Regions from separate parts of the Homo sapiens genome. Here regions 1 and 3 are each linked to region 2. Evidence: fine-mapped expression QTL. A gene starts in region 2. Each other region holds a variant in brackets. All regions are shown on one strand. Distances are between the middles of the regions.

Region 1 (4,120 bases), 29 kb before region 2:
AAAAAAAAAAGGCCGGGCGCAGTGGCTCACGCCTGTAATCCCAGTACTTTGGGAGGCCGAGGTGGGCAGATCACAAGGTCAGGAGATCGAGACCATCCTGACTAACACGGTGAAACCCTGTCTCTATTAAAAATACAAGAAATCAGCTGGGCTTGCTGGCGGATGCCTGTAGTCCCAGCTACTCGGGAGGCTGAGGCAGGACAATGGCATGAACCCAGGAGGCAGAGCTTGCAGTGAGCCAAGATTGCGCCACTGCACTCCAGCCTGGGCGACAGAGTGAGACTCCGTCTCAAAAACAAAAACAAAAACAAAAACAAAAACAAGAAAAGCCCACTTTGGATCCTGCCCCACCCCTTGACCACAGTCGCCTCTGCCATTTAGCAGGAGTGAGGATGTGGCAGCCTCTCCCAGGTGTCCAGCTCGTGTGTCCAAATGCCTGCTCAATGACTCTTCTTGGATGTCTGGTGGCCTCTCAAACCCAACACCTCCAAACACCAGTTCTCAATTTGTCCTCAAGTCCTCCTCACCTCCAGCCTACCCATCTCAGTAACGGCACCACGGCTCCCCCAGGGCTCAGGCTCCTTCATTCTTCCTTTCCCTCCCCCTGCACATCCCCTTCTGAGCAAATTCCATTGGCTCTACCTTCAGAATCTATCCCTGGGCAGGCCAGGTCGCACCATCCCAACCAAGCCGCCACCATCTGGCACCTACCTGGCCTCCCTGCCTCCACTGTGCCTGAATGTGACCACTCCCTTCAACGCAGCCAGGGTCATCTTCCCACAATGCACAGCTGGAAACCATCGCTCTCCACAAAACTCTCGTCGGACTTCCATCGCACTTAGAGAGGGAAAGTCCAACTCCTCGGCACTGACAACAAGGCCCTGCAAGGTCTGTGCCTCCACCCCCGCCTCCAAACTTGACCTTCTTCACTCTCCTGCTGGCTCACTGCACCCCACTTATTCTGGCCTCCTTGCCAGTCCTGGAACACACCTAACATATTTCCACCTCCAGGCTTTGAACCTGCTTTACTGTTTCCTCTGCCTCACCCAGGTCTGTTCCAATGCCACTTCTTTGGAGGGGCCTCCCCAGCCATCCCCTCTCTGAAAGAATGGCCTCATCTCCACTCTCTTGCCCCTTATTCTGACTGACCGATTGCTTGATTGATTTCACAGCACTATTGAAAGACTAAGTAAATGAATAGCAGGAGTTCACTGTAACCAAACATCAAAACACCATGTTACCAAGCCAAAGCCTCCAGTTTGTACCCACTGAAGAGGTCCCCAAAGCACATCCATCCCTGACTCCTCTGGCTGCCCCATGTCTTTCCTAAAAAGTAACGCCTCTGACCTTGACCATCTCCATTTGGCGGACGCTGCTTAAAAAGCCCCCAAACTTCACTTCTCCCTGCTTTAACCCACTGGCTAAGAGTTTCTATACCCTTGATACTCTCATTACATTTGAAGGGATATACTTGGACTAATAGAAAACATCCTGGGACGAGGCGCGGTGGCTCATGCCTGTAATCCCAACATTTGGGAGTCCAAGGTGGGAGGATTGCTTGAGTCCAGGAGGTCAAGACCAGCCTGGGCAACATTGTGAGATGCTGTCTCTACAAAAAAAATCAAAACAAAAATTAGCCAGGCATGGGGGTGTGCATCTGTGGTCCCAGCTACTCGGGAGGCTGAGGTGGGAAGATCGCTTGAGCCAGGGAGGTTGAGGCTACAGTGAGCTGTGATCTCGCCACTGCATTCTAGCTTGGGGGACAGAGCCAGACTCTGTATCTCAAAAAAAGAAAAGATCCTGTGTTCCAGGCACCTGAATAATTATCCATATCTTCCAGCTGAGGAAATAGAGCTCAGGGAGGGATAGACTTGTTCAGGATCACACAGTGAATCAGTGGCAGAGCTGCAGCTAGAACCCCAGCTCAGGCTGACCCTCAAGCTGCCTTGGCCTTCCTGGAGTGGGGGTGGTCCTCACACAGGGACAGCAGAAGAGAGATCAGTATCTGGAGGTCAGGGGTAGAGGAGACAAGGTGAAGGAGCCCCTTAGCTGGGGTCTCATGCCTGCCACAACTAGGGTGTGGCTTCATTCATCCAACAAAGGACTTTCTAAGGATTCTCTCTGGCCCCCTCTGGGACCTCAGTTTCTCCATCTATACAAATATAGATGAAACATGGGT[G/C]CTGGCTGGCCTGGGCCCTCTCTAATCTCCCCAGCAGACAGGCCAGACTAGCGGCCACTTTCTAGGACATCTTTGCCCATCATGTCTGCCTGCAAGTTGTGGCCCATGTTCTTTCTCCCTGCCCAGCCCAGGAGGCAGAATGAGACAGGCGGGTGTTGCCTGGCTGGCTCTCCCCAGCTGGTCTGATCACAAGGCTTATCCAACCTTTCCTCTCCATTTCCCCCATCTCCCCATCCCATGACTATCCCACTCGTTCAGGAGGGAGCAAGAGGATTAGAGATGAAAAAGTGAATGGTTTGCTTAGATTTGTGGTTTTCAAACTACGGTGGGTGTCAGAGTCACCTGGAGGGCTTGTTAAAATACTGATTTCTGGGACCTATTCCTACAGTGTCTGATTCAGTAAGTTTGAAGTGGAAAATATGCCTTTCTACAAAGGTCCCTGGTGATACTATTGCTGCTGTTATGGGGACCACACTTTGAGAATCACTGGCTTAGGTGATGGGAGCAGTTGCAGCTGACTCAATTATTAGCCAGCTCAGGGCTTTTAAACAACTGCAATCACCGCCTTCTCCACATTTATACCTCCTCAAGTCACTGTCCAGAAGCGGCCACAGGGCAGGAGGGGGAAAGCTCTGCTGGGGAGGTGGCTCTCATGTGGTGACCTGAAGTAATAACCATAACTGCTCCTGCTGGCCAAAGGCTTCCTATTGGCCAGACACTGTGCCAAGCCCTCTAAATGCATGTTCTTAATGAGTTCTCACAGTGACCCCATGGAACCGTACCATCATCACCCTGATAAGGAGAGGGCGGTTCAGAGGCGTATACTGTGGTGACTGCAGAGCTCTGTGAATACACTAAAATCCTCTGAACTGAACACTTTAAAAGGAGGAATTTTACTGTATGTGAATTATATCTCAATAAAGCTGTTATTCAAATGAGAAAAGAAAGGTATGACTTGTTCAAAGTCATAAGCGCAGGACCTGAGCCCAAGACCACCTGGACCACCGGGCCCTACTAATGCTCTGGGCCTCAATTTCCCTGTCAGAAACACACACAAAGGTCGGGGACAACTCAGTGATGGTTAAGGTCCCTGTAGCTTGGTAACTCTCCAGCAGTGGGGTGGAGAGGATCGGCCATCAGCTCAGCTCCAGATTCTCTGGGGATGTCCCTGGATCCAGCTGAGGTCTCTCTCTTCATACCCACTGGGCGTTTGCCCAGTGTCCACGGCTCTCTCTCTCGACATGTCCAACATGTCCCTGGAGGGACAGCTGCTGGGAGGCCAGGCCAGAGAGATGGGGATATGATGGGGGTAGGAAAGATGGCAGGGCATCTCACAGCAGAAAAGAGGTTGTCACCTGACCTCTCTGGGCTATATTCACTTCAGACACCTACACTCAGCCAGGTTTATTGTAAAACCAGAAATGAATAATCCAGGTCCCAAGGAATTAACAACACAGAACATGACACAGTGGTGACGGGATGGACGAGGCCATGACAGTGTACTCAAGGGGTCGGGGAGAGTCCCAAGAAGCCTTCCGCACAACCAAAGTGGAGGGATCAGTGAAGACTTCTTGGAGGAGGTAACTGGACAGGGGTCGGGGTGCCCCAGGCAGAGGAAGCAGGATGTGCAAGCAGTGGGAATGTGGCCGTCGAGGCAGCCCAGAACGGCCAGCAGTTCTGGATGGTGTGGCCTAAAGTGAAGGGGGCAGTGGAAAAACCAGAGAGGGCCAGACCCAGGGGCCTTGAGTAGCATTCTCAGGCACTGTGAACATGATCCCAAAGGCAATGGGGAGTCATTGTAGAGTTCTTTTTTTTTTTGAGACGGAGTCTCACTCTGTCGCCCAGGCTGGAGTGCAGTGGTGTTGGCTCACTGCAACCTCCGCCTCCTGGGTTCAAGAGATTCTCGTGCCTCAGCCTCCCGAGTAGCTGGGATTACAGGTG
Region 2 (4,120 bases):
CGCACACAGGTGGAAACTCAGGCTGGCAGAGGGACAGCCAGGCCAGCAGGAGGGCTGCTAGACAGTCAGGTGGGCAGGCAGGTGGGCCACCCAGGAGACCCCAGCGCCAAAGGGCCCTCTCTGGTGGCAGCAAAAAGGGATTAATAGCCACACATTTTCCAGGGACCAGAGGTCTCTCTCTGGGCACCTCTGAGCGTCCCAGCGTCAGGCCCAGCCCTTCAACTGATATCTGCGGGGCCTCTCATGTTCCTGGCTGGGCCAGGCCGTACCCCAAGACTGAGCTCTGAGCTGCCAAAATTCACTCTTCACACCCAAGAGGGGTCAGTGTTTTTGAAAGTTGTAGGAGCCTGGTGAGAGGGAGGAGGGGGCCCCAGCAGCGTCAGTGTTTCCAAACCTACCCCTCTCCTCTTTCTTTTTCCCCTGGTGCCTAGAGCCAGGCCTGGTGCTGCCAGCCAACAAGGCAGGCGAGCTGGGCCAAGCCGGCAGGGTAGGGCAGGGCAGGCAGGGCGGCCGCCGTTGCCACTGGGAAGTTGAGGGTGGAGGGGAAGACTGAGCGAAGACACAGATCAAGTCGGACACAGCATATGCGAGTGTCAGGGCCCAGGGGGCCCACAGGGACCCCCACACACCCACAGTCAGCTGGGCAGGGGTAGGAATGAGGGCCGCCCTGGAGAGGAGCACCCCTGAGGGGAGCCCTTCATAGCTCAGAGCTGGGGAGCAGGTGACAGAAGCGTGTGGGAGCCAAGGGTTCCTCTTTGTGTCTGGGACACAGGGAGGCAGGGGTGGGGAAGAGGAAAAGGGCGCCCACTCCAGGGGCCCCAGACTTCGCCAAGCGGACTTGGGGGAGGCAGCTGGCGGTCGGGAGTACCTGGGACAGAGGAGCAGAGATTGGCGGTCAGGATGGAAATAAGCAGTTGCGGTGCGGGGAGGTCAGAAGCGAGGTCAAGCAGGGGTCAGGCCTGGGAGATCAGGGCTTAGGGTCGGGCTCAGCGAGGGGATCAGAAACCGGGCTTAGGCCTGGGGGGAGAGAGATGAGGGTCGGCCCTGAGGCAGGGGGGTAGAAGGCGGAGCCAGGGCGGGGCGGCCGTGCCCCGGGAGGCCAGGCTTGCGCGGGGAAACGCGGAAGGGCGCGGGGTCGCAAACTCACATGAAGACGTGGTAGACGAAGGCCCAGCCGCGGGGCCGCTCCAGCACGTTGTAGACCCAGTTCTGCAGGCGGCGGTAGCGCTTGTGCGCGGCCGAGGAGCGCTGGCCGCAGGCGGAGCCCGAGCCGGAGCCCGGCCCAGGGAGGGGCGCGCCCGGCGGCAGGGGGCTGCCCAGGAGGCCGAGGCGGCGCGGGGAGCCGCCCCCGCCCGCCTCGCCCTGTTCGCTCTGCACGGCCGTGAGCGCCACTAGCTCCGCGCGGGGGGCGTCCCCGGGCGGGGGACCCAGGCCGAGGCGGCGCGGGGGGGCCTCGGCCATGGGCGGCGCCGGGCTGGGGGCGCCGGGGCCCGGGCACGGTCCGGGGCGGGGGCGCGCTCGGGGCGCTCAGAGACGCATGGCTCGGACCCGGGGCCAGAGGGGCGACCCGGGGCGGGCGCGGGCGGCGGGGGCTAGGGGCCGGGCCGGGGCCGCGGGCGGGCGCTCGGAGCCTGGGGGCCGCCGGAGCCCGCACTGACCTCCCGCTTCCCCGGCGACTGGGGCTGCTCTTTCCGACTCCAACTCTCTTATTACGCGCTCCATGCCGCTCGCCTTTCCACCTGCCACCGGCGCGCGCCGCTCACATGTCACCCTCCCCCGCCCCGCCCCTCCCCCGCCCGCCCCGCGGCCGCCTTCCCAAATCGGGAGGGAGCGAGCGAGCAAGCGAGGCGAGGCGGAGGGAGGGAACGCGCGGAGCAGGCGGCGGGGCAGGGCGCACGGGCGGCCGAGTTGGTGCCTGGGCCGAACCGCGTGGCGGGGGCAGCGCGCGGGGCCGGGAAGCCGGACGCGTGCAAGTGGTGTCCACCGCTGCGTGGGGCAGTGTGGCCCCGAAGGCCAGCCCGGGGTGGGACGCCTCGTGTGTGCTTGTGGAAAGTGGAATGTGGAGTTGTGGCCGCGGGCGGCAGGGGAAGGGACGCAGTGTCCCGTGGAGTTTAGGTGTAGACCGGTGGAACGGCGTCTACTTGTGTGTGCAGGGTGGGTGGCTGTGGGTCTACCAGGTGCGGGGATGGAGTCAGTGAGGTGTGAGTTATGGGTCGGGTGTGGGTGGCTGCGAAAGTGGAGGTGGAGTCCGAAGGGGATGAGGTGTGTCCGTTGGGGTCGAGCACTGTGTGCCTGGTGCGGGTGCTTAAAGTGTGCCCAGTGCTGTGTGTGGCTGGGTGGGCAGCGGCGGTTGTCCTGCTCTTACCTGAAAGGCCTGGAGCCCACGGGCTGCTAGGCAGCATCAGGGTGTGTGGAACACAGTGGGCCTGGGTGTGTCTTTCTCCCACCAACTGCCACCTCTGAGCTTCCCTTCATCGTGATGGGGGAAGAGCCACCCTGCCCAGAAGAGGATCCTCCCCGATGGAGGGGCCTGCTCCCCTGCCCCACTCCCAGGTCAGGGAACTGGGTTTGGGCAGATGGAGTGTTGGGAGATGAGCTCTAAGCCAGCCTTAGAGGGGACACACACCCCCTACCCAAGGCCCACAGAATCCCAGCCAGAAAAGGGGATACTTTGTCCCAGGGCATTCCCTCTCCAGCTGGAAAGTTTTTCTTAGTCCCCGACCTCCATCTCTCTGGCTGTAGGGGGCAGTCCCTCTCCTTTAGCCCTCCTGGGCCCTGCACAGGGTTGGTAACTTGGGTTTCCCGATCCTCTTTCCCTCTTCCTCCACGGAAAGCTGCGGCCACACCAGCCGCTCCCTCCGCAGGCCCTGCCCCAGGGTGAGCCTTCCGCAGCAAACTCTTCCCGGTTCCTCCGGGAGGATCTCGAGGGACGAAGCCGAGCGGGAGGGGCGGGGGAAGGGGCGGGAAGGCGAGCTCGATTCTCAGCTGTCAGCAAAGGCAGCATTGATCTGCTGAGCGCCAGTGAGGGAGGGAGGGAGGCAGGGCCGTGGGCTGCAGGGATCTGTGGGGTCCCTAAACTGGGCTTGGCAACCGGCCCACACCCCTACCCCATAGTGATCCTTTCCCCTCTGCCTAGCTGGGGGTGCCCTCTGGGGTCTGACCTGAATCTCTTCTGCTGCTCCTGGTCCAGGTGTGCCCAGGGCCAGAGCCGGGTGCCCCAGGGCAGGTTATGCCCGGATCCTCTACTGGAAGCTGGGGACAGTTTCTGGACCCCAAGGCCCCACTAGGGATGTGGTGCCTGGGCTGAGTTAACCCATCTTCTCTCTATGAGCTGAAGATGGCACCCCCAAAATATGCAGCACTGTCCTCCCTCTGTGGAACTGCCTGGCTGGTTCTTCTCAATCATAGATCCTGGGAAATGGGACTAAGGTCTAGGACATGAAAGGTGCACAGGAAAGCAGTTGCAAGCGCCCTGGGGGTGTTTCTAGGGGGTCTTTTTGAGGCTCTTGTTCTGTAGCAGAAATGGAATTTGAATTCAGGTTGCCCTTAACACCCAGAATATCTGAAACTGGGTCTGTTCTGGGAAATCTAATCTTCAAGCTCAGCATCACCTCTGGATCCCATGGCTCTCTTCCCAGCTGGGGGACTACAAAGGTCCCTTCCCCACCTTGTGAGGAGCCCTCACTGCAGGGAGTGTCTCATCATTCCCAACTCCAGCTCCAGATTACCTGCTCAAAGGCAGCAGAAAGAGGAAAGAGACTGTGGTTGCAGCTAGAGGGATGGAAGTTAGATCTCAGGAAGGACTTTCATAGGGCATAGAAGCCTGTTTCTCCTGCGGGCGTATGGGTAATGGAGGGACACAGAACTCTTCCTAAGGGGTGAGAGGGATGGGGGAGATGGTTCCAGGAGGCCACAGCAAATTTACTTGGCATATGTGTACACATGGAAGAGTGGAAGGGCCAGAAGAGAAAGTCCAGTTCAGAGAGGACAGGTGGCCACTCTTAGGGTCACCGGGTGGCCTTCCTGCGCCATCCGGATTCCCAGGACATGACTGGGAGGACGGACTTTCCCCACCACAACCTTTAGTGACTAAGACACTTTTCTGAGCAAACAGCTGTCT
Region 3 (4,120 bases), 37 kb before region 2:
CAGTCTTAGCCTGGCCCGGGCCAGTGGGGCAGACCCACTTCTGGGCCCTGAGGCTGCTGACTGGCCCAGTAAAAGTGGGCACATATTCCTACATGGGGGTTCAGGGTAGGAGCATGCACCTAAGTCTGGAACACATGTTTCTGCCCATCCCACACTTTCTCCAACCAGCTGCAATATCCACTAACTCTGTCCCCCATTCAGGACTGAGGGGAGACGAGCTGGCTGTATCACTGCCCTAGATGGCATCACCTATGGGTGAGCATGCACACTGCCAGCACTCCAGGGCCGGGGTTCAGCCATGGGGCAGGGCTTCACCAATGCCCTATGTCCAGTATCCACCTCTTCCCTGGGCATAGCAGAGTGGAATAAAGGACACTCCAGGCTCTGAATTACATAGGATCTGCAGAGCCAGCCCAGGGTGCTCCCCTGGGAGCCATCACCCCCTTTCCACCCTCCAGGGTTGAGTCTCAGCCACTTGTCCTCAAAGGGCATTGCTGCCAGCCCCCCACCCACCCCCACCCCCAGCAGGACCTACCTGAAGGATGGGAGGATACTGTCATAGTAGTACCAGGTGGCTGTCAGGTAGGCCCGGCTCATATCGGTGGAGTACAGGCGCCAGGCAGCCTGGTGGTATGGGGGACGTGGGGGATGGGGCATCAGTGAGGCCTCTCAGTCCCCACCAGCCCTCTCCCCTGAAAGAACCCAGTCCTTGGTCCAGTTGTGGGTTACCCAGAGCCAGAGGCCAGTTCCAATTCCACAGCCACTGACAGGGGCAGCCAAGAAAGTAAGGCCTAGGGAGAAACGACTTCCCCGAGGGGACAAAGCAGATCAATGTCAGAGCCAGGGGCCATAGAGCATAGAGGTTAAGAGCTGGAGTTTTGTTGTCAGGCAGACATGGGTTTCCAATCCCAGCTCTGCCCCTTATTAGTGAGGACAAATTAAGTAAAGCTTCAGGACCTCAGTTTCTTCACCTGTAAAACGCATGTAACACTACTTGCCTACCAGGGTGTTGTGAGGATTAAATGAACAGTTGTATATTAAATGCCAAGCTCAGTGCCTGGTATATAGTAGGCACTTCATGCCAGGTTCCTCTGTTAAACACTCCTGTTATTCCCCTTATCACATTTGATGAATACCTATTCATTGTGTATTTGACTGATAACTTTCTCTCCCCCTAGACTGCAAGCTGTGTCTTTGTTACCGCTGCATTCTCAGTGCAAATATAGTGTCTGGCACATGTGGGTGCTTTGCAAATGTTTGCAGAATGTCATTATTATTACTAGCAATGCCACTCCATCTTTCCCAGCTGCCTGTCACTGCCCATGGGAATACTAAGGACTGAGAGGGGAGGAAAAGCATTACCTACCAACCCCTCAGCATCCATGGGCTTGCCGAGCTTCCTCTGCAGCAGGAGGGATGAAAGTCAGACAGGAGGAGAGACTGTCCCTCTCCCTCCACGTAGGAAGAGCCAGGGAGGGACTGTGAGTGTGGCCATCAGTGAGAGCAGGGAGGCATGGAGGCTGCTAGGCAGGACAAGGCAGAGCTGGGCCCTGGACGCCTCCCTTCTTTGGATGCCTCTTGTCCTTAAGGGGCTGCCACTGCTGACCTCACCAGCCAGGCACCCTCCTAAGACAGGAATATTTTTACTTCCTGCTTGCCTAGGCCCCTGGCATGGGCTGGGGAGCAGCTGCCAGAGCTGTCTCATTAATTATGGGCACC[A/G]CAATACTAGCTGTCTCTTGGCATGGACAGTGCCAGCCGCCTGCCCCTACAATGCCCCTCAGAAGGCCAGCTCCCAGGGGACAGTGGCCATTGTGCCCCAAGGGACGCTAAGAAGAAAAGGCTGAGCTGGTGGCTGGAGATAACAGCGACAGGGAGGAGGGTTCTACCCTGGGGAGGAGAGATAAGGAAGGGCTGAGTGAGGCTTGGGTTTGGGGCTCAGAGGGTGACAGGCTAGGGAGCAGGCAGAGGTGGACTGGGCCAGTATTCCCTGAAGCATTTCCTGCAAGGAGTTCCCTTACACACACCCCTGACTAGAAAAAGCCAAGGCCTAGTCCCAGGGTCACAGAAAATCAGAGCCCTGGCCTCAGCCCACACACAGTCACAACACGCCATGGCACAGAGGGAAACTGAGACCACACACTCCTGGCTTCCTACCCACCCCTCTGGCTGTTCCTTCTGTCTCCTTGCCCAGCTCAACTTTGCAGGCCCACCCACCTGCTAAATGTTGAGATTCCTAAAAGCCCTGTCTGCACCATCCTCTCTTCATTTGTGTGAGTGCTTGTGGAATGAATGAATGAATGAAGGTGCTGGAAGTGGGGCAGGCTTACTGCTGCACAGCTGATGGGGGCAGCAGTGGGTCTCCACCAGAGGCCTCCCAGCTCCTGTCTGGGCTCCGCCCCTCCCCAGGCCCTGTGAAGTTGGGCTGGAGTTGGGCAATAGGGCAGTTCTGGCTAGCCCTAAACCAGGCATTTGGTGCAGGGGGAAGTTTCTGGCACTGTCAGTGAGCATCCTGGCTCTGTGTGTGACTTGGCATGTGGCTCCAGGAAAGTCACATAGCCCTTTTGAGCTTCAAAGTGGTGTCACAGTTGGGCTGGGGACATGGGTCAGCACACAGGGTTGACACACCAGTGCAGTCACACGGCCCTGCTCCTAGGGCTTCTTCCCGGGCATCTTGTACCTGGATGAGGTTGGCTGCCGGCATCCTCCGCTTCTCGAAGTGCTTCTGCCGGTGCTGCTCCTGGACCTTCAGGGCAAAGCCGGAGCCTAGGATGCCCTAGAGGGATAGGGCATGGTTGGGGGAATGTGCTGGCAGTGGTGGGGCAGTAAGAGGCTGCAAGGGTGTCCCCATCCTTGCCCCTCTGAGGTACCCCAGGCTCCCCAGGCAAATGTGTGACAGGGGTGAGCAGGTCCCACCCTCAGCCTCCCCCACCAACTGAGCAGGAGGCAACTCACGGCAGGCAGGGCAAAGAAAGAGATGCCCAGTAAGGCGAAGCCAGCAGCCAGGACCCTGCCCAGCCATGTGTGCGGTGTCTTGTCACCATAGCCGATGGTTGTCAATGTAATCTGGAGACACAAACAGGTTACAGGCAGGACTGGTCACGGGGGCCACCTACGGCTTGTTGGGGGTACAGGCAGGTAGGAGCCTGATCATGAGGGAAGGGGCCCCTGGTCACCCACGGGGGCTGGTTAGGGTCATAGATGGATTCTCCCTCTCCTGGGCTGGTCAGGGGAAAGGGGTATAGTCACAAGGTCTTGATGTGCGGGGCTAGCTGGGGACAGAGGCAGGTCCACCAGAGCAGGTTGGGGGGTTAGCATTGGGGCTGGTCTCAGGGGGGTCCCAGCTCTAGTGAGAGGGCAGGGGCAGGCCCGCTCAACCCTGAGTCAGGAGTCACGATGGGCAGACCTCGGGAAGTTCCCAGGGAGGATCCCAGGGAGAAGGGCAGCCCTACAAAGACCCTCACGCACCGTCCCCCACCAGAGCGAGTCGGCGTAGGAGGAGAAGTCGGAGTTGGCGTCCTTCTCAGCCAGGTAGACCAGGAAGGAGGCGAAGATGAGCACCAGGAACCCGATGTACCAGGCGGTGATCAGCTCCTGCGGGGCAGGCGGAGGGGCGCGGTGAGGAGCGCTGTGCCTGCCTGGGAGATGTGGGGGGCTTCCACACGGGAAAGGGATAAAGGTCCCCCATCTCCCGGAGTCCCAGGCTCGCTTTTCTTTCTCAGCTCCTCCCATCACGGCGACCCTGCCCCGGCCTTCGCGAAACCGCCAGCACTCCCCCTACCCCGACCCCCATTCCCACCCCCACCCTCACCCCGCCTGCCTTGAGTCTCCAGGTTCCAGGCTCAGGACTCCAGCACCCGGCCTACCTTGCCCCGTCCCCCAAGTCCCACTTTCAGGCTTCCACCTGGGGCCCACCCTAGCCCCGCTCCAGCCCCACCCTCAAGTCCCACCTCAGCTGCCCACTTTGTGGTACGAGTGGTCCCTTCAAACCCAGAAGCATCCAGGGGAAACCCTCAAGCCCCGCCTCTCCGGCCCCGCCCCCTGATCCGGTCCGGACTCCTAGGCCCGCCCCTACCTAATTCAGAATCCACTTCGCCCCACCCGCTTAGACCTCGCCTCCTGC

Which allele goes with the higher level. Positions count from the first base shown, and alleles are read on the strand shown. Sizes are in standard deviations (SD) of each study's normalised expression. Not every link is listed here.
In carriers of allele G in region 1, the expression in pancreas of the gene that starts at base 1,768 in region 2 tends to be lower than with C alone (moderate effect, 0.52 SD a copy in GTEx).

What was found. PIP is the estimated chance that this variant, and not a neighbour inherited with it, causes the effect.
Region 1: its variant is the best candidate, but not a certain one, in a credible set for the expression of KCNQ4 in pancreas (GTEx, PIP 0.85).
Region 3: its variant is the best candidate, but not a certain one, in a credible set for the expression of KCNQ4 in spinal cord (GTEx, PIP 0.53).

What each region holds. Positions count from the first base shown.
Region 1 is chr1:40,809,937-40,814,056 of GRCh38, reverse strand. All of the region lies in intron 1 of KCNQ4 (potassium voltage-gated channel subfamily Q member 4), which reads right to left. Among named protein-coding and RNA genes, the nearest start is that of KCNQ4, 28 kb to the right of the region's middle. RefSeq lists an enhancer at 183-682. The variant G/C (reference allele first, on the strand shown) is at 2,180.
Region 2 is chr1:40,781,435-40,785,554 of GRCh38, reverse strand. KCNQ4 (potassium voltage-gated channel subfamily Q member 4) reads right to left here and starts at 1,768. Exons shown (of 14, transcript NM_004700.4): 1 at 1,148-1,768. The coding sequence starts at 1,461.
Region 3 is chr1:40,818,818-40,822,937 of GRCh38, reverse strand. KCNQ4 (potassium voltage-gated channel subfamily Q member 4) reads right to left here. Exons shown (of 14, transcript NM_004700.4): 5 at 3,466-3,591; 6 at 2,953-3,063; 7 at 2,678-2,773; 8 at 536-624. Among named protein-coding and RNA genes, the nearest start is that of KCNQ4, 37 kb to the right of the region's middle. RefSeq lists cis regulatory regions at 1,846-1,863, 1,888-1,905, enhancers at 1,782-1,926, 1,824-1,968, 1,680-2,181 and a silencer at 4,006-4,065. The variant A/G (reference allele first, on the strand shown) is at 1,720.